Regions from separate parts of the Homo sapiens genome. Here all the other regions are linked to region 3. The links come from fine-mapping of genetic effects on gene expression. A gene starts in region 3. Each other region holds a variant in brackets. All regions are shown on one strand. Distances are from middle to middle. Region 1 overlaps SKI (SKI proto-oncogene). Region 2 holds the start of LOC124903824 (a long non-coding RNA gene). Region 3 holds the start of SKI (SKI proto-oncogene).

The links.
Region 1: its variant is fine-mapped to the expression of SKI in whole blood (INTERVAL, PIP 0.99).
Region 2: its variant is fine-mapped to the expression of SKI in whole blood (TOPMed, PIP above 0.99).

Annotation. Positions count from the first base shown.
Region 1 is chr1:2,294,545-2,304,380 of GRCh38, forward strand. SKI (SKI proto-oncogene) reads left to right here. Exons shown (of 7, transcript NM_003036.4): 2 at 8,434-8,559; 3 at 8,741-8,856; 4 at 9,296-9,558; 5 at 9,749-9,836. Among named protein-coding and RNA genes, the nearest start is that of SKI, 71 kb to the left of the region's middle. RefSeq lists enhancers at 3,352-3,863, 3,864-4,375, 6,615-6,674. The variant G/T (reference allele first, on the strand shown) is at 6,543.
Region 2 is chr1:2,310,297-2,320,154 of GRCh38, forward strand. LOC124903824 (a long non-coding RNA gene) reads left to right here and starts at 4,699. Exons shown (of 4, transcript XR_007065362.1): 1 at 4,699-4,732; 2 at 5,650-5,702; 3 at 6,096-6,715; 4 at 8,694-8,972. RefSeq lists enhancers at 2,878-3,531, 5,012-5,765 and silencers at 4,331-4,450, 4,541-4,700, 4,851-5,140. The variant G/C (reference allele first, on the strand shown) is at 4,552.
Region 3 is chr1:2,223,529-2,233,386 of GRCh38, forward strand. It overlaps SKI (SKI proto-oncogene), which reads left to right and starts at 4,791. Exons shown (of 7, transcript NM_003036.4): 1 at 4,791-6,207. The coding sequence starts at 5,239. RefSeq lists enhancers at 857-1,357, 2,712-3,532, 7,362-8,023, 7,670-7,719 and a silencer at 3,852-4,621.

The DNA.
Region 1 (9,836 bases), 71 kb after region 3:
CTCGGGGAACCGGTAAGCCCAGGGCCACCTTGTCACGTCCTCCACTGAACGTGGGTCCACGTAGATGCCAGCCCCTTGGTCTTGCCCAGAAGTTGTGGGAGGTGCTGGTTGCCAGGGATGGCTATGCATGTTTGTCCCCATGGCAGGGAGGCCTCTGGGGGCCTGGCCCTCCCCCCGCTAGCTGCTTCTCACATTTTTGTCTCCCCGAGAGCCACCTGCTCTCCCAGGGCCCTCAGGCCCCCGTCTGCCAGTCTCCTGGCACCTGGGCTGGGGTCTGCGCCAGGCAACTCCCACAGCAGGGCAGGATCCACCCTCCACGTTATCATTACTGCCATCCCCTGTGCCTGGGTTGGAGGCCACGCCCACCCAGTGGGGCCCCTCTGGAAAGGAGACTTGACCTCAGGGTGGTGGCAGGGCTCTGTGGGATGCCCCTGGTGACAGGGACCAGAATGTTCCCTAAAGTGGATGTCAGGCCCCTGGCTCAGATGGAGCTTTCTGTTCTTGATGGGCTTTAGAAGGTGAAAAACTAGGCTTCCAGAGGTGAAGTTGCACTGTGGGCTTTGTGGCAGGTGAGCGCTGCCTGACCCTGAACAGCTGCTAAAGACTCAGACCTGGAGCCTTCCTGGTGTCCTGTGTGTCCACGCAGGTGTGCCAGTGTGGCAGCCCTGCGCCAGGAGCTGCCCCTGCATGTCATGGCAGCATCCATGCCAGCCGAGCGCCCCTCTGGCTCCCAGGCATCTCATCCTGTCTGGCTCTGAGGGCCGTGCTGCAGTGAAAACCATTCACCTTGACAGTTTGGCTTTCGACCAAGAATTCACTGTCATATTTTTGATTTTTAAAATTAAGACTGTATTCAGATATAATTTGCGTACCATAAAATTCTTCCTTCCACAGAATATGGTTTAATGGTTTTTCAGTATATGCAGCCATCATCATCTAAGTTGAGAACATTTTTGTCACCCCCAACAAGAAGCCCCATGCACATGGTCCGTCACTCCCCAGGCCCCAAATCCCAGCCAGCACTGATCTTGGCCATTGGCCTGTCCTGGTCATTCCATAGAAGTAGAGCCACGTGACTGTGTGTGTGTCTGGGCCACGCGTGGCTGTGTGTATGAGAGCCATGCGTGACTGTGTCCGGGTCACACGTGACTGTGTGTCCGGGCCACGTGTGGCTATGTGTCCAGGCCACGTGTGACTGTGTGTGTCCGGCCTCAGCACAGTATTTTCAAGGCTCCTTCCTTCCTTTTCATGACTGAATCATACTCCATTGTCTGCACAGACCACAATCTATCCCGTCATTTGTCTCTGGATGCTTGGGTGGCTGCACTTTGCTGCTGTGAGCACTTGTGCACAAGCTGTCGTGTGGATGTGTGTTTTCAGTAACCTGCGTGTACGCCGAGGACTGGAATTGCTGGGCGATGTAACTGTGTTAAGCTTCCGAGGACCTGCCAGACTGTTTTCCACAGCAGCTAAATAATTGTACGTTCCTCTTAGCAATGCATAGGGGTTCCTGTGTCTCCATGTCATCACCAACACTTGTCCAAACTAAAAAATTCTAGGCCAGGCGCTCATGCCTGTAGTCCCAGCAATTTGGGAGGCCAAGGTGGGCAGATTGCATGAGTTCAGGAGTTCAGGACCAGCCAGGGCAACAAAGTGAAACCTTGTCTCTAGGAAAAAAAACAAAAAAAAAAAAACAAAAAATTAGCTGGGCATGGTGGCACATGCTTGTAGTCCCAGCTACTCAGGAGGCTGAGGTAGGAGGATTGCTTGAGCCCTGGGTGGTTGAGGCTGCAGTGAGCTGAGATCGTGCCACTACACTCCAGCCTGGGTGACAGAGCAAGACTCCGTCTCAAAAACAAACAAACCCAGTTCTAGCCATCGTTGTGGGCGTGAGTTGACGTCTCCCTGCGGTGTGATTGCGTTTCCACAGTGAATGATGTCAGGCAGCTTTGCATGCGGTTACTGGATGTTAGTATCCTGTTTGGAGAAATGGCTACTCGAATTCTCTCCCATTTGGAAATTGGGTTGTGTTTTGTGTTTTCCTTGCTGACTTGCAGAGTTCTTCATGTGTTCTGAATCTGGTCCCTTACCAGCTACCGGGTTTGCACGTTTTCCCTTGCATCCTGTGGGCTGTCTTTTCCCTTTCTCGATGGTGTCCTTTGAAGCACAAAGACGTCGTGATTGTTTTCTGGGAAGCCTTGTTGTTGTGTTTTCTCTCTGTTCCTTGTGCTTTGGTGTCATGGAAGCACTTCTGCGGGGGCGGGAGTCTGGACTGAGGCCGCCACGTTCCTGCTGTGAAAACCTTCACGTGCGCTCGCAGCCTCGGCTCTACAGACGGTTCAGTCCGGGAAATGGTTTAAGGAGGCCGTGCACAGAAACAGTCTTTGCAGCCAGGGACATGAGAGCATACCGTGCTGTTCCCACAAGGCCCGTGGCCTCTGCAGGTGAGAATTGGTGGCCTCCCTTGAAAATACTGAATGGAGGTGCCAGGCACCCGCACAGGCTCTTGGTGTGGGCATAGGCCGTCTTCCACTTGAAGAATGTGGCAAGATGGTCTGAAAACCACAAAGTTTGTGTTTGGAGACACGGTCTCAGTGTGTTGCTCAGGCTGGAGTGTAGTGGTGGGATCATACCTCACTGCAGCCTCGACCTTTTGAGGTCCAGTGATCCTCCCACCTCAGCCTCCCAAGGAGCTGGCATTACAGGCATAAGCCACCACGCCGGGCCCACGGCTGAAGTTTGGGTTGTATCCTTTTAAGGAATAGCAGACGGGTTTTCAGCCACACCGAAGAGAACCTCAGCGTAGCAGAGTGTTGCTGGGCCATGTGCTTCAGGAGCAGGGCCACAGGCAGGACCTCGAGTGCCCAGCCCGCTCACCACGCTGTGGGCGGCCTCTTGGGAATGTCAGAACACCAGCACAGGCGATCTCCTCGGAACCCAGATTGTGGGCGATCCTGCCGCTCCACCTGCTGTGGCCCCAGGGTTGCACCACCATGTGGACTGTGGCTGGCAGCTTCTGGAGGCTTCTTGGTGCCTACAACATCTGCGCCACTCCACAGCGTTGCCTATTGGTGGCAGCCATCCCCTCCATAAGCCCGTGGCCCCTGTACAGAGACGAATTGGCGCTCACGGACTCACCCTGCGAGGCAGCATCTGCGTCTGCAGGACTTCCCGGCCCTTGGCCGCACATTTCCCTCCAGTTCCCATCATGGCAGCTGTGCCTGGTTGCGGATGCTGCATGCTGAGGAGAGGAGGCGTGGGCCCGCCCGGTGTGCATGGGCAGGTCTGAGACTGGCCACTCCCATGGCGCATGCATTCCCCTGGAGGGTCCCCTTGCCCCGTGGCTGCAGCCTGGCAGGAGAAGACGCTGAGGGGACGCACGGGAGGGGTTGCAGGGTGGGCTGTGCTGTGTGGCAGGCCTTGGGGTGTAGCCGCAAGCTGTGGGTCCATCCCCCCGCACCAGAGTGCAGTTTTGACACCGGGTGGTCATGGGCCGAGCATCCATGCAGGTGTGGAGACGGAAGCCTGACCCACAGAGCTTGGTGGTGGCCCCTGGACTGACCTGTGGGCTGCTCAACCGCTCTGCCACTGTGCGTTGTTCACATGTGAAGCCGGCGTCACAAAGGCCTCAATGTCTGTTTCAGCTGGATACATGCGCGCCCTCGTGGGGGCTTGAGGGCACACTGGCCGCTGGACACTGGGGTCCCGGGGTGACTGAGGCTGGTGCCCTCCTGACAGGTTGCTGGGCTGCAAGTTGAACAGAAAACTGGTTTTCTTCACTCTGCGAAGTTCCCTGTGGTTGTCCCTGGGGTTGGAGGGAGTTGTGTTGACATCATCATGGCTGCTGCTGTGCGCCTCTCCCTTGGAGCAGGTGTGGTCCCCGGCTCCTGGATTGGCTGCCCATGCTCAGGATGGTCTGGGGTGTGGCCGTGGCCTGTCCCCGGGCCGGATGGCTTTCTCAGCAGCTCCCTGAGGCAGCATGAGCAGAGGCGGGACCCTGCCCGGGTCCTGTTTCCCCCTTGTATCCTTTGGCCCTAATACGGGGTCCCGTTTACCAATGAGGGCAAAGAGACCAGTCTAAGGGGAGGCTGAAAACTCACAGGCAGGCCTGTCTGGCCTTGGGGTCTGGGTGCTGCTTCCAGGCAGACCACATCCCAGGTGAGGTGCAGACATTCAGAGACAGACGTGGCCGATCCTGGCTGCTGTATCAACGCGCCCACCAAATGGGGCCTTCTTTGATCATCAGTCAAAAGCAAGAATGTGCCTGTGGTGGGCGGGCGCGTGTGCCAGCTTCCAGGCCGTGGGCTCCTTGGTGCCCAGAGCTCACCCTGTGGTGCTTGCCCACTACTCACTCCCGCCTCCCCGGAGTCTTGCCCTGGGGGGTCCTGGTGTGGGAGCTGCCTTCTCTAGTTGGGTGGAGCCTTGCCTGCTGGTGCCTGTGAGCCCTGGGTGGGTGGATGCCGGGTGGTCGTGGAGGTTCACAGCAGGCTCTATGTGGTTGTTTTGTGTGGATTTGGGGTGTGAATTCTCTCAGCAAAGGCTGACTCAGACCCCAGTGTTCAGAAGGTTCAAGGAAGCGACCGTCAGCGCCGAGTGGCCAGCAGGGCGGGGATGCGGCGTTGAGCCCCGTCATTCAGCTTCAGTGTGGAGAAGGCCCGGAGCTGTGGGCATCAGCTCGGGGACCCGAGTGACTGTCCCTGCCTCGGGGAGGGGGGGGGCCACACGGGCAGGCGGGGCAGCAGCTTGTGCCCATGTCCTCCTCACGGACTCTGGAAGTGAGAGGCGCTGAGGCCACAGTGGGGGAAGTGGCCCAGCTGACGACCCGGGCTCTCGGTGCCCTGGGAGGAGCTGTTGTTAGGACATGTGCAGACTGGGTTCAGCCTGTCTGGAGTGGCTCAGGTGCCTGGGGACAGAGGCCAGCTGTAACCGCTGCTGCACTCGGTTCTGGATTCAGTGCCCTCCGCCTCTGCGGCGTCTCCCTCGGCAGCTGTCCAGGACTCCAGCCTCCCTGCCAGGGTAGGGGACATGGAGCGTCTCCTTGCTCTGGGGGGTTGAGGTCTTCTGTGTTTGGACCCTGTGGGATCTGGCAGGAGAAGCAGCCCCCACTCATGTTGTGCCAGGGGCCTGGGGAAGGGAGATGGCAGTTCTGTGACCTCCAGACTCCCTTTCCTTATTGCAGGGGATGGGCCAGCGTTTCGCCCTGAGCATCTGCACGTGTCAGGCAGGAAAGGGTCCCCAAGGCCTTCTCAATGGCTCTTCTCTGTTCCTGGCACCTTACAGGCCTGAAACGCAGGGCCCCCAAGGGTGGGGTGTGCATTTTTGGAGAGCGTCTTTTCTGAGACTCCCCCATGGGGAGCTGGTGGCTTGCTTGTGGCAGTGTACTGTGGCTGCCCAGTCCTCGGCAGGCATCCACTGCTGGCTCACCTGTTTGGGCCACCGCCTCTGCATAGGTCCTGTGGGCTTTGCTCAGGAACTGTTCCGTCAGAGGGCCTAGGGTGTCCACAGTCTTGGGCCCGCTATTCCTCAGCCCAGCCCTGCCCTGCCCTGGCAGGGGGGCACCTGTCCTTGGGTGCAAGCTCACACGCGTTGCCCGGGTGCCTGCTGGCCAGGTAGCTTGCCTGGTCATCCTCGGGGTGTGGGGAAGGACCCCAGGAGGGGAAGTGGCCGCGGGGCAGCGCGGTGTGTCGTCTGGCCTCCGCTGTGTAAGCTGACAGTGGCCTGAAGGGCTTTGGGATGGGGCAGCCCCTTGCAGGCCTATCCAGGCCCAGCCCCATTGCTTTGGTGTGTCAGGTCCAGAGCCGTGCTCCTGCCTCGTGGCCTGTGGGCTCCAAGGGCGGGTTTTGAAGCCCCAGGAAGGGTCACACCAGAGGCAAGCGGTCGTAGCTGCTCTTCCCAGAGTAAGACTCAGCCGTCTGTCACTGGGTGTGGTTTTGTCCCTGACCGACAGCTGACACTGGGGCCCCCAGGGGCCTTGGTAGGGCGGGTGGCATCCCAGGCCTGAAGACGGCTGTCTGCTTCCTGGGGCTTTGAGAAACCAATACTGCTCAGGTGACAGTCCCTCTGAGAGTGTCACTTCCTCCGCCCACAGGGGCGCAGACACCTTCTATTTTACACGTTTCTCTCCGTTTCTCTGATGCTGCAGAGAGCCCGCCCTGAGAGCCGGGAGTCGCCTGATGAGGGGTCGGCAGGGGTCTTAACGGAGTCATGTCTCCGAAGGCTCGTCCTGGCTCCCTGAAGACCAGGAGCGTCCCTGGCCCCAAGGATGGCCCTGAGCCCATCTGCCTCAACCCTCCAGATCTGCAGGGTCCTCGGCCACCCCCCACTGAGCGGATTGGGCTCGGGGCCCCGGGCCTACGGTCCTCCCGCCACCTCCACGGGGCGGCTGTTGGGGCCCCACCAGGCAGAGCCGTGTTCTCAGGCGTTGGCTCTCATGGAGGTGGCCTGAGGCATCTGACTCTTTCCCCTCAAGGAGTCTCTGAGTCTCCCGGAGTCAGCGCCGGCTGTTGTGGCTTTTCCCCGGGTGATAACTGAGCCGAATTTCC[G/T]CGCCCGCTTCAGTGGCTGCTTAGACAGGAAGCTCCACCCAGCCGGGCGTCCTCGGCCTTCTGTGCCTCTCGGGAGGGTCCGCATGATTCCGGAAGGGGCTCTGCTGCAGCTAGGATGGCACCCGCCCCTGCCAGGCATAGGCACAGCACCCTGCGGTCAGGGCCTCCGCCAGACGTCATCAACACTCACTTCCCCTCGAAAGCCGCCACATAGAGGGGGTATTTTCAGTGTCTTTTTTCCTGAACAGCTATTTTAGTGTCTCTGAAAAAAACCATCCACAGCCGTGAGCCTTCAGGGGCTGCCTGCCCTGCGTCCCCGGCCCTGTGCGCCCGAGCACTTATCTTTCTCCCTTGGGCCCAGGTCAGAGCCAGGCACCTGCCCCTCCCCTGGCCCCACCCTGCTTGTTCCCTGAGGGCTGCAGGGTGGGTGCACGTGCTGCAGGGGAGGCCACGGGCTTTGGCCAGATCTTCCCCCAGGGCCCTCCATCCCCATAATTGGAGCACCTTGATGGACAGCCTGCCCTGCGCCCCATCTTCCCCCTAGGGAAGCAGGGTCCCTGCTGCCTCCAGGAGGCTGGTTCCTGATGCAGCGTCTTCTCCTAGAGTCCTGGAGGTGGGAAGAGCCCCCGGCCCTGAGTGTGCTCTGTCCACCAAGGCTTCCTGGCTGAGGGCAAGGGCGGAGCCCCCACCGCCCGACTTTGCTGCCTCCTCTTGAGGTTGGCCTCGGCAGAGTGAGTGGGACCTCACCCCTGTGAAGGGCCCCTTGCCCTGTGTGGCCTGTTCTGCATTGGCCTGTGGTGTAGACCTGGTGCCAGCTGCCCTGGAGACTCTGTGCTGTCCTGTGGGGTCTTTGGCAGTAGAGGAATGGCCCATTTTACGGAGACTGCCCTGTGATTTTGCTTGGGAAGAGACCTTGGGTCTCAGTTGTGCCTTGCGGGCAGCACCGTCTCAGGGGTTTCCAGCCGCAGGGCTGTGGGAGTTCACGTTTGCCTGAGGCTGGATGTACCGGCTCAGGCCCCCAGCACACAACCCACATCACTCACTGGCTCTTGGGGGATGTGCCTCAGCACCTGACACACAACACCTGGTTCTGAGTGGGCTGGGTCCAGGCACCTTCGCTAAGCTTCCTCCACCAGCGGGACCTGGTTCTGGGTGGGCTGGGTCTGGGCACCTTCGCTAAGCTTCCTCCAGCACCGGGGCTGGCAAGGAGCGAGGCAAAGGTGTGTGTGGTGCCATCCTGTAGGAGCCAGGCTCCTTGGGGATGGTGTCCTTCATTTTGAAAATGTTTCCTTCCCATGGGGAGGGGGCAGCCAGAATGCCCACTCTTTAATGCACCTGTGCCAGTGGCCCACAGGGACACGGTGTCCCCTCCCCGCGACCACCCCTGTGCCGCAGCTGCCCTTCCCAGACGCATCCGTCGTGAGTGGCTCTCGCCGTGCTGTGGCTGGTTGAGCTGAGTGCCCAGCGCTGGGCACCCTCTGAGGACACACTCGGGTTCTAGGAAAGGGGTTTGGCAGGAGAAGGACGAGGGACTCCTGGCCAGGCTGAGCCGCTGTGGAAGGGGAGAGTGGGTCTTGGTGCTCCATCCCAAACCTGCTGCAGCCGTGGGTGAGGTCACCCGGAATGGCAGGACAAGGTCCACTCTGTTCTCTCGGAGATGACTTGTCCCTCAGCACAGCCTCCACGTGCCTGTTGCGCGTGGCCTAAGGGCCTTTATGCAAAGTGAACTTGGTCTCCTGGGGGGTGCCCTGGAATCTGCCTTCTGCGCCACTCAGGGTCGTTTGTGGCCGGAGTGCATGGGGCTCTGACTGCCATGTGCCAGCCACGGGGCTGGTGGAGGGACCCTGCCCTGGGAACCACAGGTGCCAACAAAACCTTTCATTGATCGCAGGTCTCCTCTGAGCCTCCGGCCTCCATAAGACCCAAAACAGATGACACCTCTTCCCAGTCCCCCGCGCCTTCCGAAAAGGACAAGCCGTCCAGCTGGCTGCGGACCTTGGCCGGCTCTTCCAATAAGGTGCTGTGGGGCCTGTCGGGGTCCTTGGGGTGGTGGGTACTGGGCCCTTCTCCTTGGGCAGACCCAGCGGCTGGCAGCTCCACCTGCCCGCTACTGAGGGCTGGCACCCGGCGCAGCCTCAGGGACATGAAGTGGCTTGTTTTTCTCCTGGTCACTCACACAGACAACTCTTTCTCGACAGAGCCTGGGCTGTGTTCACCCTCGCCAGCGCCTCTCTGCTTTCCGACCCTGGTCCCCCGCAGTGTCAGCGAGTGAGAAAGAGCTCTCCCCACACCTCCCGGCCCTCATCCGAGACAGGTGAGTGGGCGCCATTCACAGGTGTTTCTGATCACGGGGGAGGCTCCACGAGGGCTGTGCATGCGGACGCGCCCATGTTTCTGCAGGCTGGGTGCCCAGACCTGCCGCCTTTTGGTCAGGGCAGTCTCGGTGTTGGTTCCTTTGGCTGGCATCAGGGAGAGCACACCTAGAGCGTTCCCTGTGTTCTGGGTGGAGTCGTGGGTGGAGCCCTGTCTGCTGGGCGCAGCTTCTTGATGTGTTGGCCTGTGTCTGGCCTTCGCAAGAGACCCAGCAAGCAGAAAACGCTTACGGGTTCTTAGGGAACTGTAAGCTTGACTTGAAGATTCGGAGCTGGGAAAGTCTTTCCTGTTTAACACCTTCAGAGGGGGTGTGCGCCAGGATGTGTCTGGGTGGTGCTTGGGGACAGAGGCACCTTCCCGACACCCGCCTGCCCCTCCAGCTTCTACTCCTACAAGAGCTTTGAGACAGCCGTGGCGCCCAACGTGGCCCTCGCACCGCCGGCCCAGCAGAAGGTTGTGAGCAGCCCTCCGTGTGCCGCCGCCGTCTCCCGGGCCCCCGAGCCTCTCGCCACTTGCACCCAGCCTCGGAAGCGGAAGCTGACTGTGGACACCCCAGGAGCCCCAGAGACGCTGGCGCCCGTGGCTGCCCCAGAGGAGGACAAGGACTCGGAGGCGGAGGTGGAAGTTGAAAGCAGGGAGGAATGTACGTGTGAGTCGCTTTCTGTGCCTCCTCCCTGTGGGCTGTGGGGGTGGCACTGGCTGAGGGGGGCTGGTCGCCGGGGGTGCGTTGGTGGCCCCATGTTTCGCAGGTTCCTCCGGGAGCGGCGCGTCTCCCTGGTGTGGAGCTGCCGGGCACTTCCATGACTTTGTTTCTGTCTCTGCTTCCTCCTCAGTCACCTCCTCCTTGTCCTCGCTCTCTTCCCCGTCCTTTACCTCATCCAGCTCCGCCAAGGACCTGGGCTCCCCGGGTGCGCGTGCCCT
Region 2 (9,858 bases), 87 kb after region 3:
GCCATCGTGGGTGGGGGTGCTGTCACAGGTCAGATTGTGGGCCTCGGAGTCTCCGTCGACCCCGAGGGCACGTGGGGTCCAGGCGGCCGCCCTGGCACAACTGCCCTCTCACCTAGTCCCCGTCCCCTCTGAGCTGGGCAAGGCCACGGTTTCCTCTGCGATTCAGGGAGCTTGCAGTCCCTGCTTGTAGCACTGGATGTGGCTGGAGCCCTGGCTTGAGGCCACCGTGGCCTTGGGCCGGCTGGGAGGAAGCCCCACAGAGTGCAGTGCCAGGACAGAAGATGGGATGGGGCCTTCCCGGCTGGGCCTCCACGGGGGCCTCTGAGGCCGCACCTGCGGTTGGCCAAGGTCCAGCTCCCGCACGGACAGACCTGTCCCCAAGGGGTGGATCGCCAGCTCCCTGAGGAGCTCCTGGGTTACTTGCGGGGGAGAGGGGAGGTGGCATCAGAACCCTGGACCCCAGCGAGCTGCCCCGAGGGAGACACAGAGGTCCCTTCTCCCCACCTGACCTCACAGGGGGGCCTTCCCAGACCCCTGTTCTGGGGATTGGAGGTGCCATGCCGCATGCCAATTTCATGGAGGCACAGCCCCGGGTGGGCTCCCTGGGGTGCCAGGCCACCACCTCTCTAGGCTTCCTTAGGCCATCACATCCAGCATCTCCAGCCCATCCAGGCCCTCATAGGTCATCTGGGTTGTGGTCCGAGAAAGGCATGGGCTGGTAGGGGCTCCAGCCGGCCCCTCCCCCCAGCCTCCCGGCACAATTTCCAGGTCCCCATCTCTTCTCTCCACCCCTCGGGAAGTGCCCCCAAGCTTGGGGCTAGAGCAGACCTGGCCCTCCCCTCACTGCCACATAGGGGCTTCCTTCTTCCCTGCCCAGGGCCCCAAAGGGCTCATAGAGCCCCCACGGAGGGTACAGGGCGGCCTCTAGACCACACAGGCCTACCCCAGCAGGCCTCAAAACACCCACTCCACATGGGCCTGGCTTCTCCATCCAGGCTAGGCCCCTGGGTGTTGGGGGCAGTGGGCAGGGGCGTGGGCCGAGGGGAACATGGGCCACAGCAGGAGTGGGTGTGGACTGGTCCTGGGCACGTGCATGTTCTGGGGGGCAGAGGATGGGCGGCTCCAGAGTGCCGCTGGCAGGACCCTGAGACTGAGTCAGTTGTGAGCACAGAGGACCAGCCCGGGGTCCAGTGCAGTGGGGAGGAGTTGGGGAAGGGCTGGGCCGAGGTCCTGGGTGGGCCTCGAGGACCGTCCCTGTGGCCACATGGGCACTCTGCCTCGGAGCTGAGCACCGCAGGGCTTGATGACGGCCCTCCCGACCCTCCCGGAGACTCAAAGGCACTGCCTCCAGCAGCCACGTGGGGGCAGGGAGGGGCGGTGCTCTGGGCTCAGTTGTTCCCCAAGCTGCCCCAGGCTTCTCTTTGGTGTTTACCTTTGGGTATAAACTTAGAGCTTTAAAGGGCTCTGGCCACCTGCTGAGCTAGGCCAGCCGTCACCCAGGGTCAGAACCCTCTTCCCAAAGCTGTTCCGAAGGGATCCAGGGGTCTCCTGAGTGCTGGGGGAGAGGAGGCCTGGGTGGGAGAAGCTCCCTGCCTCCATGCCAGGGGAGGGCAGAGGTGGGGGGAGAGAGATGGCCCTCCCCACCCTACCTCTGCATCCTCAGGCTCAGGACTCCCAGCATTCACACCTGCCTGGGCCTCTGCAGGGACCACGGGTTAGCCCTCCAGCCTCAGCTCCCTGGAAGGGCAGCTCCCAGTACCCCTGTTCCTGGCAGTGCCTGTTCCCAAGCCCCCAAGAGCTGGGGTCTGGGGAAGATGAGCTCAGGGAAGGGGATGGGGGCTCCCCCACCTCCCTAGTTTCTGCCCCACCCTGTGCCCCACCCATTTCTGCCTCAGTCACCAACAGCTGTCCTTAGGTCTCAGCTGTGCTGGTCTCCCCCTCCTCCTGGAGCCACAGTCCTGCCAGCCTTCACCCACCAGCCTGTGGTCAAGGGGGCCGACAACGGCTGAGCAGCCTGACCTTGTCTGGGGAGGCAGCGGCCAGCACGTCCTAGGTGGGGAGTGGAGACTGCTGACCAGTTACTGCAGCCACTGGTTCAGCCCCGCGTGTCCGGCCCCAGCCCTAAGCCTAAGCAGGGACCCGGCTCCTCCCTCACTTCACCCCCAACCCGCCCTCCTGCCCCAGCGCAGTGCTCCAAGGGCATGGCCAGGGGCCCCCAAGCTGGACACCCCCTCATGGCTGCATGAGGGGCTCTACCCATTGCCCCAGCCCACAGGCCCAGACCCCGACCCCATCCTGGCCCAGGCCTGGCCACCCCCACGTCCCAGCACCTGCTTTGACTCCCCCACTTCCTTCTGGCCAGGAAGAGGCAGCCCCCACCCACTCTGTTCTCGTAGCCTCTGCACAGCTGCTGGTCCTGCTCCAGGCGACCCGGCCTCTGACCCCACGGAGCCTCCGCTGGAAGGAGGTGCGGAGCCCACAGGGACACCCCCAGGCCAGGGCCGCCTGCCCTCCAGAAATGATGGGGTCGTGACCCTGATGTGTTGGCCCCGGGGGGGTCCCGACCCTCCCCACAGAAACTGCCCTGTCTACTCCACCCACAGCGGACCCTGGGGAGGGGGTGAGGACAGAACATTTGGGGACTGGATGCCCGCCCAGCCCTGCCACCCCCCGGTCTCAGTGACGCACATGGCCATCTGTGCCTGGCCTGTGCCAGGTGGGTGGGGGCCTCAATGGCTGGGGCACCCAGCCCTGGAGCAGGTGGCCCCGCTGCGGGTGAGGACCGGCAGGGGCAGCCTGGCCAGCCTGGCTTGTCTTTGCAGTGTCCTGTGCTGGGCCAGGTGTCCAGCCGGGCTGGGAACGGACCTTTCTCTCCCATGGCCGGGCCTGGCAGCTCTTACTGGCAAGAAGTGCAGCCCAGGCTCGGCCTCCATGGCTCCTCCTGCAAAGGAGGCCTGTTCCAGAAACTTCCAGGGACAGGGAACCGTGGGGAGGTGGGGAGGTAGGGGCTGGAGGCAGGGGCTCCCTGGGTCAGCCCAGGCAGCAGTGTCTCCCAGTCTCCTGCCCCTCCCCGCAGCTGTCCCAAGGACACTCTTAGGTATAGGGGTGCCAAGTGCCCAGGCCCCGTGGAGATACAACTGGCTGGCTTGGAAGGGTGGGCTCCTGGCTGCCCAGCTCAGCCCAGAAACCAGGATTGGGTGCCATCCAGATCTAGAACGAGAGACCAGGGGTGTGGAGGGTCGAGGGCCGTCTAGAGGCCTTGGTGGGGGCCGGGCAGGCCACCAGCCCCGAACCCTGGAGGGTCCCGTGTACCCTGGCCAGTGCCAGCTGCTGCCCCCCTGGCCTGGCCCTGCCAGATTCTCCCTGACAGCCCTGTCCCCCTCTCTGCTGTCGGAACCTTCTGGCCCTTCCTGCAAGGTGGGCCTGGCCAGGCTGGGGTCTTGGTGGAGGGCAAGCAGGAACCAGGGACAGACGATGGAGCTCTGCGTGTCCTCCCTCATGGAGATGCCCCCAGCTGGGTGAAATGACCCTGGTCGGTGCTATGCCCAGGTTAGGCCAGGCTACCAGTTGCAGATGGACACCGCCCTGCGCCCTGCTGTGCCCACCCTGGGGCAGGAGCTGGGCAAGGTACTGTGTGCCCTGTGGTCCAGCCCCACTCTGCCCTGCCCCTGGTGGGGCCTGCACCCGAGGGACGTGATGCCCATGCCCCAGCTTCCTGTTTCTAAGGAAAAACAGTCCTAGGAAAAAGGCTGTAGCGTCGGAGGAGCTGCCCTCGCCAGGGCCTGGGGGGATTGTGGGTGGGGAGGCTGTCCCATTCTGTGATCCCAGGGATGCCAGGAGGGCCGTGGCTGGTGTGGCCGGCACTGGGTCAGGTTTAGGCCGGGGTCTCTCGGGTCTCGGTGTTGGCCCCTCCGTGTTTAGAATCCTCCCAGGCCAAACCAAGGCGGCCTCCAGGGTCACTCCTGCACAGGACAGTGGCCGGAACTCCGAAATGACCACCGACCTGCGCTGGCCGCTGAGGGTCCGACAGACCAAGGCTCTGGGCCCCCTACCCCATCCTGCGCCCCGTGCGCGAAGTCTGCGGGGTCACTGCTGCGCAGGACAGAAAACCCGCAGTGGGGCCCCGGCCTGTCCCCGGCCCTGGCGCTGTCCTGGCATCCGGGGAAATCCTGTTTCTGGCTCCAGGCCAGGGCCTGCCCCTCACCCTGGAGAGGCCCCGTCGGAGGCCGGCCTCGCGGGGGAAGGGCGGTGGCGGAGGAACTACCCAGGAATTCCAGCGCCGGCTCCGAAACCTTCCCAATCCCGCTCCTTCGCCCGGGCCGGAAGCCGCGCTGGGGGGGTGGGGAGGGGTGCACGTCCCGGGCCCCGCGCCGCGTCCTCAGGGCCGGGGCGGCCTCCCCGACGCCCGTTCCGTTCCCAGTCCGGGGGCACTGGGGGCCCCGAGTCAGGCGGAGCGCGCCGGGCCCCACTTCCCCACGCGGAGGGGCAGCCCCGCAGCCTCAGGCTCCCCCCCGCAGCCTCAGTTTCCCCCCCGCCCCCGCCGCCTCTTCC[G/C]CTACCCCACCCTCCCTGCCGTCCGGGGCGGCGCCCCCCAGATTCGCGGCCAGCGCTGGATTCCGGCGGGGTGGGGCGGGGGCTTCCGGCCCGGGGGCGGCTGGTCCGAGCAGCAGGCCCGGGCTGGGGGGCGGGACGGGAGGCCCTGGGAGCTTCCTGCAGCGTGGGGGCGGCTCCCGAGGTGGGAATTCCGCCCCCGAACCGGCGGGCTACGTGCGGGGGTCTCAGAGGCTGCGGCTCCTCCCGTCGGTGGGCGCGGCCGCCCCCAGAGGCCGCTGCGGGAAGCAGGGCGGCGGCAGGAAGCGCCCCCCCCGTTCCCCCTTCCCCCCCGTACCCCTCTTCCCCCGCTCGTCCCCCCTTCCCCACCCCAGGCCCCGCGGAGGCGGCGCGCGTTTCACGGGTTTCGCCGCCCGCGGCACGGTGGGGGCGGGGGCGGGGGCGGGGGCGGCGGTGCGACCCCCAGCGGTGGAAGCGGGAACTGCAGCTCGGCCGAGCTCGGGGTTGGGGGGTCCCTGCCAACCCTGCCCTCCCGGAAGGTCCCAGCCTGGCGGGTTCGGGTGCTTTTCTCTCTGGGGCGCGGCCTCCCTGTTCTGCTCAGTTGGGGGTCCGTTCCCGGGAAGAACCACCACACCCCCCATCCCGGCCCGCAGGCCCCAGCCGCCAAGTCGTTGCTGGGGAGGTGGGCGCAGGCCGCCCTCTCTCCGTGAGCCCACTCGCCACAACCCGCAGGGACCTGGGGGACTCGGTGGATCCAACCACAGGAGACCATGAGACACAGGCGGTCTCGCCGAGGCCTGCCGCTTAGAGCTGTCTCTCCTCCTCACGGGCCCCCTGGCTCCCTGCAGGCCTGGCCTCCTATCTCCCTCAGGCCATCAGCCCAGGGACCCCCAGCCCAGGCACCCCACCCATGCTCTGAGCTGTGGGCCTGAAACCCGCCCTCCTAGCAGGGAGCCTGGCTGCGCCCCAGGCCGCTTCTGCTTGGAGCTCCGTGGAAGGAAATGCCCTCAGGTTCCCAGGCACTGAGCCTCCCCTCCCGCTAACCCCATCAGGGGTATAGCAGCCCCGTGGTGCTCAGCCTGCCTCTCTCTGCCTGGGCAGGACCGTGGAGCCCATGCGTGTCCTCTCTCCTGTCCCCAGATGGAAGCCGGCAGGTGGGGCCCTAGCAGGGGACATGCTCGACGTGTGGGTGGATGAGGACCCAGTGGGGTCAGGTCTGGGGCAGCGGGACAGGGTCTCCAGGACGGGGCCTGGCTGCAGATAGGCCGGAGAACGGCTGCTGGTTCCCTGAGGCCACTGGGGAGCCAAGATGCAGTCCCCGAGGGGTTTCCAGGGAGCAGCCACTGGGCTGGGCAGCTGGGCGCAGGGGCAGAGAGAGCTGGGGCTGAGTCCTGGCCTGCCCCCTGGGGACTCCTGGGCTGTAAGGCAGGGGTGGGCAGGGCCTGGACCCTTGTTGGGGGGCCCTCCCTGGCTGTGGTCCACCTCAGGAGCCAAGGAGGCTGGGGGGCTGGTGTGGGCAGCTACCTCTGTTCCCCACGGGTCCTCAGGAAGGCGGCGCCACAGACTGAGGAGGCCCTGCTGGCCCTGGAGCTGTGTTCGGAGCCCCCACAGCCTGGCTCCTGGCTCTGGTTGCCGTGGGCGGGAGGTGGAAGTACAAGGAGAAGGAGTGTCCAGCATTTTCACGAGTGCCACCGCCAGAGGTCAAGCTGAGGACAAGAGGGCAGCCAGGCACCACCCTGGCCCCAGGCAGACTCCCCAGGGCTCGCTGAAGGGCCGGCAGCCCTGGGCCTGGCAGCTCCCCTTGCAAGCCCCAGCTGGGGGCTCTGTCATCCGGGAGGCCCTGGGCCTGACCTTCGCCGGCTGCCCCTGGGCCTGGAGGCAGGACACGAAGGGGCTGATGGGTCTGTGGTCAGCCCCGAGCGCACTTTGCTGAGCTGTGGTCTTGCTGAGCCAGCCCACAGGCCCAGCGACTCCTGGCTTACTCAGCCCAGGCCTGAGGCTCCCAGGGAAGGCCAGGCCAGGCTGTGCAGGAACCTGCCTATGGGGCTGGGCACCTGGCCCTCCAGGAAGGCCTGCCTGCGAGGAGCTGCTCTGCACAGGGGTCTCGACCCTCCGCTAGGCACCAGGAGCGAAGAGGGAGAGGCTTTGGGAAGGAGACACAGGTCAGGTGGGTCCTGTCTGGTTCCCGGCTGTGGCCTGGCTACGCTGTCCTCTGCTAATGCCAAAGGGGCCTGGGCATGGTCTGGAGGGTGTCCTGGCTGAGGCCCTGCTGAAGGGGTGAGGCAGGCATCCCCCCCCATCCCCACCCCGTCTCTCTACCTCTCTGTGTGTCTCTCTCTGACTCTCTCTGTGTCTGCCTCTCTCTGTGTATCTCTGTCTTTCTCTGGCTCACAGACTCCATCTTCCATGGCAGCAACTGGCTTGATGCTCTCTTTCGGTGTCATCTTCGCTTGGTAACCATGGGTGGGAGGAAAGGAGGAATGGCCACTGCTCCCTTGTTTGGAGGTCAAAGGAACAGGAGGGGCACAGGGAGGTAGGAGGGGCACAGGGAGGTGGGCGGAGCTGGGACCTGGAGCTCTCCCCAGGACTCTTCCTGGGGCAGGAGAAGGGGCTGGCTGGGGTTGGGGGCTCCACCTCCAACACACTGTGTTTGTGAGCTTGCCAGAGAGCCGCCACCTGGTCCCTGGCCTCAGGTTCCCAGGGGTGGCACCAGTAGGCCGTGGCCTGCAGGCCAGAGGCAGACACAGCCCCTACCATGCCCACCAGGTCCGGAGGAGCCCAGCAGAGCCCCTGCCCAGCCTGGGAGGAGGCCTCAGCCCAGCTCATGTCCCGCTGTGTTGGCAGTCAGACGGTCACGTGGCATGGCCACCCTGGCCCCAAAGCCGGTGTGTTTCCACCTCCAGCACCAAGAGCTGCCCGCCCTCCCCCTGACACGCAGAGGAGGCCCGGGAAGCCTGGGAGACCATGGCTGCCGTGGGCGGGGCTGGTGGCCGTCACCACTTGCTCCAGGCCTTTGGGACCACATCTGTCCCCGGCCCGCGCCCTCAGCGCAGGGACGCTGCTCGGCGGCAGCAAGTCTGTCCACTCACTGAGGCCCCAGTGCCGGGTGTGAGGCTGCTGCCCGGGAATCAGCGCCCAGTCCCGGACGCAGGCCCAGTGAGCAGGGGCAGGCGAGCCGAGGTCAGCCCACGGGCCCCCATCCTTCCACTTGACCCCGTCCCGGGCTCGGCACTCAGGGACTGGTTCTGGCCTGCGTGGGGCAGGCGATGGGAAAGGATCTTTCACAGGGGGACGGGCACACCCCGGAGTGGGGGCGTGTGCTGGTGGGAGACGCGTGTCGGGGGCTCTGCGTCCTCCTTCCAGGATCTTCCTCCCCACCCCGAGAGAGCAAGGGGTCCTGGGACTCTGCCCAGGAGGTCAGCTGGACCAGACAGACGGGCCAGTCTCTGTGGCCTCCCCAGGGCCATGGGGACTGGCAGACCCAGAAGCCAGGGTGAAGGGACGCGGGAGGCCTTGTGTTCTGTGGCGGGTCCCGAGGACTCTGTCCCCACGGTGGGCTGCCTGAACAGAGTCTGAGGGGAGGGTCACTGTCCCTGGGTGCAGCCTGGCCTGCGGCCGCCTCGCCACTCCTGGTCTCTGGATGCTGCGCCCCGCAGTCCCTCCCTCTCCCGCCCGGCTCCTCACCCCACGTCCAGCCCTCCAGAGTCGTGTCTGTGGCCACAAGGCTGTCTCCACAGAGCCTCTCTCCCGCAGTGGTTTTTTTTTTTTTAAAGAATTCAAATTTCCTGCGTATTTTAACTTTGGGATGTGGTGTGAGGAGTAGGGTGAGTGGGGCCGGGGCGGGAGTCCAGGCGAGGCCCAGGCGCTGCGTCTCTCCAAGGCTGGCTGCCCGTTAGCTCCCAGGCATGCTGGCCAGAGAGGCGCCAGCAGCCCTAGGAAGCCACGGCTCTCTGCTCCCTCCCAGGGTCCCCAGGGCCTGTCCTGGTGGGTGGCGCATGGGGAGAGGAGCATGGCCAGGTAGCCACCTGGCCACCTTCTTGGGCCCTCAGTGGCCCTGGCAGCAAGCACAGGGGACACCGATGCCTGCCCGGGGTTTTGCTGTGATAACCAAGGAAGCTGACGGCCCCGGGCTTCTGTGTTTGCAGAGAGCTTACAGAAAAGTCAGCCTCGATGGACGGCAAGATGCACCTGTCAGCCACGAAGGAGCCCCCCGAGGTGCAGATCCCCACATCCGCCGCACCCGTGTGGAGAAAACAGCGCTGGATTTCCTGTCGTGGGTTTTGTGACTTTGAAAGCCGAGGCTGCTGATTGGGAATTAAATCCCAGAGGACGCCGCTCAACACACTGGAAACCCAGCAGCTGCTGCTGTTCCCAGCAATTTTTCTTTCTCTAAATTGAAACATCATTTTCTATTTTTCTTCTGACACAAATGTGGTTTCATCCTGAAGTGAAAAACAGCTACAGAGCAATTTGCCAAATGTAAGGGGCAGGCCCAGGTGAGCGCCGCTCACACGCAGCGATCAGGGTCAGCGTGACGCGGTGGTATCTGTCCTTCACGGGGGCTCCTCTGTGGGCCCGGCCTGGCCGATGTCTGCCTGGCCTCCTGGGAGGCTGGTGACCCAGGTCGGAGCAGGCCTGGCAGGCCAGGAGCCTCCCCTCCGACGGGCGTAGCCAACCCCAAGGGTAAGGGGCAGTGTCAGAACCGCCAGGCGCTCACGGGGCTCCCAGGGACCAGAGGCTGGAGCCATGGCTGTGATGAAGCCGCCCTGGGCTCTGGGAGCCTCGAGGATGGCCGCAGCTGGGAGACGCAGCCTTGCCACTGGCTCTGGGCTTCTAGAAGGTGTGGGAGAGTGGCTGCCTGCCTTGCTGTCTGGAATGGATGCCTGGGTGTCTGGGGAAGCTTCGGGGATGCCAGAGCCCCCCACATGCACTCGGCCTCCCAGTGGCAGAGCTCAGACCCAGGGGGCCTTGGGGACACTCTGCCCTGGCAGAGGAAGGGTCCCCTCGCTGCAGCTCCAGTGGCCTCCAGCTTGTCACCTCCAAGGATGGGGGACTCGGCACCCCGCGATCCGGCCTGGTTCCTCCCTGCAATGCCCCCCCGCCCGCCCCTCTGCCCCCGGGCAGCAGGCCGCCTTCAGTGCATCCACCACGCTGCGCCCGACCTGGCCCCAACCAGGCTTTCCCTGAGAGCTCCTCAGGGCCCCCCACCGTGGAGCATCCCAGCTTCTGGGTGGATCTTCACCCCATGTGCCCAGGGGCTGCCCCGGGTTCCTGCACTGCTGTGAACGCAGCTCCTCTGTCCACGGCCTC
Region 3 (9,858 bases):
CAAAAATTAGCCTGGTGTGATGGCGCATGTCTGTAATCCCAGCTACTCGGGAGGCTGAGGCATGAGAATCACTTGAATGCAGGAGGCTGAGGCTGCAGTGAGCCGAGATCGTGCCATTGCACTCTAGCCTGGATGACAAAGCGAAGACTCTGTCTCAAAAATAAAGTAATAAAATAAAATAAAGTAAAATAAAAATCTTTGTCTCAGGGCCTATGTTTGGGGGAATCCAAAGTAAGACAAAGGTCTTTCTAAAATTTCTACTGGCCGGGCACGGTGGCATAGCCTGTAATCCCAGCACTTTGGGAGGCTGAGGCAGGTGGACCACCTGAGGTCAGGAGTTCAAGACCAGCCTGGCCAACATAGTGAAACCCTGTCTCTACTAAAAATACAAAATATTAGCTGGGCATGGTGGCAGGCGCCTGTAATCCCAGTTACTCGGGAGGCTGAGGCAGGAGAATCGCTTGAACCTGGGAGATGGACGTTGCAGTGAGCTGAGATCGCACCATTGCACTCCAACCTGGGCAACAAGAGCGAAACTTCATCTCAAACAAAAACAAAAACAAAACAAAATTATACGAAGCTGATGTTACTTGAGCAATTTTTATTTTCACATTTGAAGGTTTCTTTCCCAGTAACTGAGCATGTTTTTGCCAATGGCAGTCTATGCCTGGCTGCTACAAGGCCTTCCTTCTGCTTCCTGAGGAGGAGAGAGTGGGTGGCAGCAGGGCAGGGCAAGGCAGGGTGGAGCAGAGCTGGTCTGCGATGCATTTCCCCACCAAGGTTTCCAAGTTCCCCCAAAGCTTGGGGTACCCCTTGCTTTGCCAGTGTCTTCCTCTTTCTGGTCCTGGGGCGCCATCCAACTCATCTCCACACTGCTGGCTCCTTAAGGTGGGGGTCTCAACTCCAAGGCCAGCCTCCCAGGAGGCCCTCCCTGCCTACAGCCAGCCCCAGCCACTCCGCGCCTTTTGGGGATCTGAAAGATCTCGCTCCCGTACTAGCAGGTTTGTTGATTGACTGTTGTCTCTCACACCAGAATGGAACCACACGGGGTACAACCTGGTCTCCTTACCCTGATCCCAGTGTCTACAGTGGTAGGAGCTCATCGAACAAGGGGACAAACTCATGACTAGCTGACCAAGCCTGTCACCGTGGTAGGGGCCAGGGAGAAAGCTGGGAGGTCCCTGCCTTTGCCCGCATGCCAGGGCTTCTCTGGGCAGGCACCACGTCCATCCCACCCTACTCCGCGCTGTGGCTGTGCCTGCAGCCTTAACCCGCGGCCTGCCAGTATGGTGGCCCGCGTGGGCGACTGGCCTGGGCAGCTGCTGGGCGGGGCTGGAGGGTGGAAGGCCAGCAGGCGGGAGACACCCCCCACCCTCTTCCCTGCCAAGCTCAGGAAGAAAAGTGGACCCTGGTGGCTCCCTCTAGGCGTGGCTGCTCTGACCCTTGGTGGGGTGGGTGCCTTCCTCTGGAAGCTCTGACATATTGGGGGAAGGAAGTCTCAAGAGTCCACAAAGGTGGAGGTAGCTTCAGAGACCAACTGGAGGCCCTCACCTGTCCCCGCACCTTCACTCCATGGCACACCTATGGCTACTTCCCAGGGGTCCGCACTCTGGACAAAGTGTTGGTCCCTGGCTAGGACCCTGCAAAGCCAGAGGCACAGAAGGAAGCAGAGGCTCTGGGTGGGCACTGCCCATGCTAGGGGCCCTGCACAGAGCCCCTGGTCCACCAGAGGAGCCAGAGGAATTCTCTGCTTGATTGGAGACACTTCCCAGCAGGCCTGGCTGCAACCACCTTCTCTGAGTTACAATTTGACTGAGTTGTATGGAATTCAAATCCAGATGGAAGGAAGTGACAACGTCAAGTGCAACACTAGCTGTGTTTTGTCCAAAACGTGGGCCAACGAAACTATCTCCAGGAAAACAAATAAGTCCCTTTTCTATTTTTTTTTTTTTTTTTTTTGAGACAGAGTCTCACTCCATCGCCCAGGCTGGAGTGCAGTGGTGCAGTCTCAGCTCACTGCAATCTCCACCTGCCAGGTTCAAGCGATTCTCCTGCCTCAGCCTCCCGAGTAGCTGGGATTACAGGCATGTGCCACCATGCCCGGCTGATTTTTGTATATTTAGTAGAGAGGGGGTTTCACCATGTTGGCCAGGCTGGTCTCCAACTCCTGATCTCAAATAATCCACCCGCCTCAGCCTCTCAAAGTGGTGGGATTACAGGCGTGAGCCCCTGCGTCTGGACTGAATATCCTTTTTTTTTTTTTAGACGGAGTCTCGCTCTGTCGCCCAGGCTGGGGTGCAGTGGCGCAGTCTCGGCTCACTGCAAGCTCCGCCTCCCAGGTTCACGCCATTCTCCTGCCTCAGCCTCCTGAGTAGCTGGGACTACAGGCGCCCACCACCACGCCCAGCTAATTTTTTGCATTTTTAGTGGAGACGGGGTTTCACCGTTAGCCAGGATGGTCTCGATCTCCTGACCTCGTGATCCGCCTGCCTCGGCCTCCCAAAGTGCTGGGATTACAGGCATGAGCCACTGAGGCTGACCCTTTTTTTTTTTTTGAGACAGGGTCTGTCTCAAAAAAAGGGTGTGTCCCTATCACCCAGGATGGAGTGCAGAGGCTCAAGCACGGCTCCCCGCAGCCCCAACCTTCTGGGCTCAAGCAATCTTCCCACCTCAGCTTCTCAAGTAGCTGAGACCACAGGTGCAGGCCACCATGCCCGGCTAATTAAAAAAAAAAATTATTTTTTGTAGACAGGGTCTCACTATATCGCCCAGGCTAGTCTTGAACTCCTGGGCTCAAGCGATGCGCCTGCCTTATCTTCCCAAAGTGCTGGGATTACAGGCGTGAGCCACCTTGCCGGGTTAAATATCACTTTTAAGGAAATGATCTTCTTACCCAGCTTTCTGGTGTGTGAACACACAGAGAAAGCCTGGCCTCCAATTGTGGGGGCCAACGGAGTGAATGGGAAGAGTCGGGGGACAGTGTGGAGTGTGAGGACAAGGAGACAACCCCCAAGGCAGCGGAGAGAGGGAGTATGGAGCCGCCCTGGGGTCACCTACAGGTAGGTCCTGGCTGCCTCTCTAGACACCTGCCCTGCCGCAGGTCCGGCCAAGACCTGCACAGGGACTCCGGGCCGGCTCCCCCAGGATAGGAACTGCGCCCAGGAGTGCTGGTTTGAGGCAGGTTCCAGCCTCCACTGGGGAAGTGAGGGGCAGGAGGTCCCAGCTGAAGGTCACTCAGGTTGCAGCGGCGTGGCCCTCTCGCCTCCGCCCAGCACCCAGGCCAGCTTGGGCACCCCCGGCCCGTGGGGCATGTCCCTCCGCCTCAGGCGAGCACAGACCGAGCCCTGCCCCTCCCCAAACACACCATTGCGTCCCTGCGCCCGCAGGCCTCGCTGGAAGCTGCCTCCCCTGGAGACCACCCGGCCGACTGTCCAACTTCGGGGCCCCGGGCTTCCCGCTCCCCGCCCTGCCAAGGCTTGAGTCTCTCCCACTGCGTGGCCAGGCGTGGAGGGCCGGCCGATCCGACCCCGAAAGACGTCTCAGCGCTCCACGGCCCCGGGGCGGAGGTCAGGGGTCTCGCCGGCCCGAACGCCGGGCCCCGCGGGGCCGAAGTCCTGATAAGCCACCTGGCAGGAGTGGCTGGCAGACCGGCTGCGTCTGGGGCACCGGGCGCCGCCCCTCCCAGGCCCGAAGCCCCCGGCCCGCGCAGCAGGGACACTCCGCCAGGGGCCGGCGGGCGGGGCGGGGCCGGCGCGGCCGGGAGCCGCGGACACTCGGCCACCGAGCCACCGGCCACGGCGCAGCGGGGGCCGCCGGGCTGCGCCGCCAGGGTCACGCGACGCGGTGCCCGTCTCGGCGCAGGGTCCCTGGGCGTGGCCGCTGTCCCCCTCGTGTGTGGGACCCCAGGTCACCGTGTGGCGTCCCGGTAGTGTGTGGGACCCCAGAGGCGTCCGGGGCCTCCCCGCTGTGTGGTGTCCCACCCTGGGAGAACCCCGGGTGCGTGGCGTGGCCCCCCGGCCGCCCCCAGCTGGTTTGCGGTCGTGGCGGGGGCCTGTGGGTTTCTGGGCCCCGACGGCGGCGAGACGGGCGCCTTCCCAGCGGCGCAGGAAGCGGCCTCGGCCGGAAGGGGGGCCCCGGGCGCCACCGCCGCCTCCGCCTCCGCCCGCGCCCAGCGGCCCTCGGCGGGCGGGGCCGAGCGGGGCCGAGCGGAGTCGAGCATGGCCGAGCGTAGCCGAGTCCCGGCCGAGCGGAGCCGAGTCATGGCAGGGCGGGTCCGAGCGTGGCCGAGTCCCGGGCGAGCGGAGCCGAGCGCGGCCGAGTCCGGGCGGGGAGCGCGCGTTCCTGGAAGAGCCCGGCTGGGGAGCGGGTCACATTCTTGGCCAGCGCTAGGGCTGAGGCGGACGCACGGCAACAAACAGCGCGGGGGGCGGGGCCGGCGCGGGGCGGAGCGGGCGGCGCGGGGCGGGGCGGCGCGGCGGCGGCGTGAGCTCAGCGCCGGGCGCTCAGTCCGAGCCGGAGCGAGCCGCCGGGAGGATGTGCGCCGAGCGCCCCGAGCCCCGCGCCGCCGCCGCGCTCTGAGGGCCGCGGGCGAGAGGCGCCTCCGCCGCCCCGGAAGCCGGGCGGGCGGGCCGCGGAGCCGGCGGGCGGGCGGGCCGGGGGCCGGCGGCGGGCGCGACGCGGCCGGCCAGCGCCGCCGGGACGAGCCGGGCGGGCGCCTCGCGGTGGGAGGAGCGGGGCGGCGGCGGCGCGCCGCGCGAGGACGGCCCGGCGGGCCCCGCGCCCGCGCCCCCGCTCCTCCCGGGCCCCTCGGCCTCGGCCGCCGCGGCGATTCGCGCCTCGCGGCGCCGGCACCTGCCCGCGCGCCCCCCGCGAGCCCCGGGCCCGCGAGCGTTGGCGTTGGCGTTGGCGGCGCGCGCCGGGGCATGCCCCGCGCCTAGAGCCCGGGGGGCGCGCGGGGGACGCGCGGGGGGCCCGGGCGGCGGCGGGCGCGGCGCGGGGCGCGTGGATGTGGCGCCGGGCCCGGGCGGCGGCGGGCTCCAGCGGCGGGACCCCTTCGCCCCGCCCGCCTTCCCCTTCGCGCCCCCGGGCGAGGCCGCGGCCGTGATCGGCCGTGAGCCGGCGGCGGGGGGCGGCCGGGGTCGGGGCCGCGGGCGCCGCCGGGGCGCGCGGGGCGGCGGCGGGGGCCGGGGGGGCCCGGGCGCGCGGGAGCGGGAGCGGCCGGGGGAGCCGGAGCGCACCATGGAGGCGGCGGCAGGCGGCCGCGGCTGTTTCCAGCCGCACCCGGGGCTGCAGAAGACGCTGGAGCAGTTCCACCTGAGCTCCATGAGCTCGCTGGGCGGCCCGGCCGCTTTCTCGGCGCGCTGGGCGCAGGAGGCCTACAAGAAGGAGAGCGCCAAGGAGGCGGGCGCGGCCGCGGTGCCGGCGCCGGTGCCCGCAGCCACCGAGCCGCCGCCCGTGCTGCACCTGCCCGCCATCCAGCCGCCGCCGCCCGTGCTGCCCGGGCCCTTCTTCATGCCGTCCGACCGCTCCACCGAGCGCTGCGAGACCGTACTGGAAGGCGAGACCATCTCGTGCTTCGTGGTGGGAGGCGAGAAGCGCCTGTGTCTGCCGCAGATTCTCAACTCGGTGCTGCGCGACTTCTCGCTGCAGCAGATCAACGCGGTGTGCGACGAGCTCCACATCTACTGCTCGCGCTGCACGGCCGACCAGCTGGAGATCCTCAAAGTCATGGGCATCCTGCCCTTCTCGGCGCCCTCGTGCGGGCTCATCACCAAGACGGACGCCGAGCGCCTGTGCAACGCGCTGCTCTACGGCGGCGCCTACCCGCCGCCCTGCAAGAAGGAGCTGGCCGCCAGCCTGGCGCTGGGCCTGGAGCTCAGCGAGCGCAGCGTCCGCGTGTACCACGAGTGCTTCGGCAAGTGTAAGGGGCTGCTGGTGCCCGAGCTCTACAGCAGCCCGAGCGCCGCCTGCATCCAGTGCCTGGACTGCCGCCTCATGTACCCGCCGCACAAGTTCGTGGTGCACTCGCACAAGGCCCTGGAGAACCGGACCTGCCACTGGGGCTTCGACTCGGCCAACTGGCGGGCCTACATCCTGCTGAGCCAGGATTACACGGGCAAGGAGGAGCAGGCGCGCCTCGGCCGCTGCCTGGACGACGTGAAGGAGAAATTCGACTATGGCAACAAGTACAAGCGGCGGGTGCCCCGGGTGAGTGGCCCCAGGCCTGGGAGCTGGGGAGGATGCGCTTGGGGTGGGGGCCCCTTCTGGACTACAGGCTCTGGTCTCCGAAGGCTGGGACCTGTGCTTCTGCCGTGCCCCATGTCTCCAGTCTTCGCTTTGTTTTAGGGAAATTCAGAGTGTTCCGACTGGCAGGGCCAGAGAGTTTGGTAGGAAGGCCCTCCTGCCCGTTCCCCAGGACGAGCCTGGAGTGCGGGCTGTGGCGGTGGGGTGGGGGGCCAGGCCTGGTGTGTGGGGAAGGCCCGCAGGCCCACAGGCATTGCCCAGATAGGAAGGCACAGGCCTCATGCTCCCGAGAAAGCGGCCTGCCCCAGGTCAGGGAAGTTAGGTCCAGCTGGGCCACGGCCCGGATGCCTCAGGCCCAGGTCTTTCTTGGGGTTGGGGTGAAGGTGGCTGTCCTCGCCCCGAAGGCACCCAGCCTCGAAGACGGAGGGCTGCCTGCCTTTGGGCCCCAGGAGACAGAGCTTGGGTGAGGCGAGGCCTGGTTTTGTTACTGGCTCCCGCTCCCTGTTTGGTGCCTTGAAGTTTTGGGACACAGACACAAAATGAAGCCAGGTGTCCAGGCTTCAGTGGCAGGGGCCCGAGACTTGGCGGCTCCAGCACTGTGCTGGTTGGTCTCCCTGGGCCTGCCAGGGACCAAATCCCAGAGTCCGCCGTGTGGGGTGAGGGCCATTTGGCACCCGGCTGAGGGGCCTGGTCAGCAGGCTCCTGGGCCCGCGTGCTGGAGTTACTGGCGGCCTGCGATTTGCTTTGGACTCACCCATTTCCTTCTCTCCCTCTGAAACGCAGAGGGGTGCGCCGGAGAGGGAGGCTGCTGGCCTGGCTTTGTTGTTTGCCAGTTGGAGGATCTATGGGATCCGGCATGGGCAGCTCCCAGGCCACGAGGTGCCGAAATTACTCAGTGGGGTCCTCAGGAACTTTCCGTTGCGTACCTCCCCAAGTATTTGTAACTTTTCTTTTAAATATCCAGGCTTATTAAATTGCACACACAGAATGCTGCATTGGCTCAGCTATTCTTGGGAGGCCTAATTAATTCAGCTATTGCATCAAACTTTTTTTTTCTAAATCTGTGAATAGATGCTCCAGCCCGGTTTTCTCTGGGCGCCCCTCCAGCAGAGTGTCAGATCGTGGGGAGGAGGGGCTGTGGATGGAAGCGAGGGACTGTCGCCTCTGCTCGGAGGGGGCTGCGGAGGGTGCATGTGTGTGTGCATGTGTGTGTTTGTGTGTGCGCGCTTCTGACCCTGCCAGGCCAGGGCTCAGGTGGCAGCCGCCTGCAGACCTGTGGGCTGGGGAAGGATGCTCGTGGCAGAGCTGCAGACAGACGTAGCAGGCTGGGGCCCTTCGTGTCACACGGGGAGTTGGTTGGGGTGGGCCCGATGGCGCTCCCTGTGGGCTGGGGCCTTTCTTTTTGGGGTGGCCGCACCCTCGTCAGTGCCTGTGGCTGGAGGAAGCCACATGTCGGGGGGGATTGTGGGCTCGTGCAGGCTGCGTAGTGGGTCACCTGTGGCCAAGGCCTGAGCTGCTGGGACACGCTCACGTCACTGTCTTCAGAGCTGATGGCAGAGGATCTCGGTTGAGCAGGGTGTGTCTGCGTTTGTTTTTGTCCGACTGTGGGTCATGTGTGTGCTTGTGGTCTTTCTGTCTTCCTGGGCTTTGCTGGGGGCCCATTGGAGTGGCCAGTGGGGCCTCGTTGTCACAGCTGACACAGAGCAGGGCCCAGGCCACCCGGCTTCTCTCTCCCTGTGGTTGTGAGCGCCGGGGTCCTTGGGCCGCCATAGAGACAGGCCAGACAGGCTCTGGTCATCTCAGCGGATGCCTCCGAGCCGCCTTTCCCTTTTGAAGTCCCCAGCACTGCTCTGAAATTTCATTTACCGATTAAAAAGCAATTCCCAGGCCATACTGACGACGTGCACGGTGTGAGTGACTGCGTCCTCTAGGCCTGAGTGGCAGCCACACAGCCTGGCCCTGGCAGTGGTGTCCTCCGCCTGGCTCCCTGAATGTTCACCAGCTCCTGCGGGTTTTCCTCTCCTCATGCTCCTGGGGGTGGGGCACCCATCCTGCCCGTGTTGCCTCCTGCTCTATGTTCTTGACGTGGGATGGCGGCCAGGGACTCTGCCCTCGCTCAGTGCCTGCCCTTTAGGCTCTGTGACTGTGCACTTGGGAGTTCTGGGCTTCAGGGTCCCCTTAAGTCTCCTCAGGACAGCCGTGTGCGTGTCTCTGTGTGCACAGGAGCGACACATGAGAAGGGAGTGTGGTCTCAGGGTGGGCGTGGACCCACAGTGCCCAGACCCTACTTGTCCTAGAAGGAGTGGCCTGGGAGGCCCCGCCTCCGCCCTCACTGGCCGCCGTTGGCTCCTCCCACTCGTGTCTTGACAGCTTATTCTCGGGATATGTTTTGATTTCTTCACTTCCTTTGTAGCTTATTTTAATATTTTTGATCTGCCGAAGATGAGGGCAGAACAAAGAATGTACTGGAACTCTCTTTGCAGGGCTGCTGCTCCCAGCAGGCCTTCGGGCTCTGCGGAGCCGGAGGGGGCTGAATTGCCTTCCGGGTGTTTGTGGCCAGGCCAGGGTCGGGTCTCCTGCCTGAGTGGGCTGGGTCAGCGCCACTCTCCTACCCATGGTGGGAGGTGGGAGAGGGCGGAGATGTTCCCGGGTCCCAAACCAAGTGGGAGGCAGGGCTGCAGCTTTCTCCTTGGAAGCCTCCTGTGACAGCGGCTGTGCCTGAGCCTCTGGCCTGTCGGCAGTGCAGTGGCAGCATGAGGGGCAGACAGTCTTCCTCCAGATGCCCCCTCATGTCACGGGGTTACAGAGGAAGCCTCCGCTTCTGTCCAGTGGCTGTCGGGCCCGGCCAGCTTCCTGCTGCTGTATCTTGGAAGACCATGTGGGCTGCATGGGTGCTTGGCGAGTCTCCTCTTAGGGACCCTGGGGCTGCTATCCTTGACAGGGGACCTTGTCTCACCTCCCCACTCGGTCCCACACTGGCTTTGTGACCTTGGACGAGTTGCTTAACCTCTCTGCCTCAGTGTAAACTGGGGACTACTGTTTATTGATCTTGGACTTTATGTTTTGAGTGGTACAGGTGGGGCACAGATGGGTCATTGTGCTGCTGGGAGCACTTAGCCAAGACTGGAGCCTCTGAGCCTTCCCCACTCCCACCCCTCTTTCTTCTTTCCGGTCGGCTCGCCTCCTTCCTCGGGTTCTCTGATAGCTGTAGGACTCCATTGGACTACATTTTTTTGTCAGTATAGACAGCTGTCAGAGACGGAGACAAAATGTGGCAGTTGGAGCTGCCGCTTGGCCTGCTGCCTGGGACGCGGCCCCTTGTCCCGCAGAACGTCAGCCAAGCGCTTTCCGTGCAGGCTGATAACAGGGTGGTGCCGTGCTTCCCTTGGGCCGTGGCAGGATCCTGCTCCAAGGGGGGGTCCTGCTCCGAGGGGGCCGGGGTTTCTGTTCCAACAGGGCTGGTGGGGGGGGTCCTGTTCCCAGAGGTCCGGGATCCTGTTCTGAGGGGGCCAGGGTCCTGTTCTGGGCCGGGGGTCCTGCTCCGAGGGGGCCGGGCGTCCTGTTCCTAGGGGCGGTGGGCTGCCTGTGTGAGAGCTGTTCTTCACCTGCCACGTG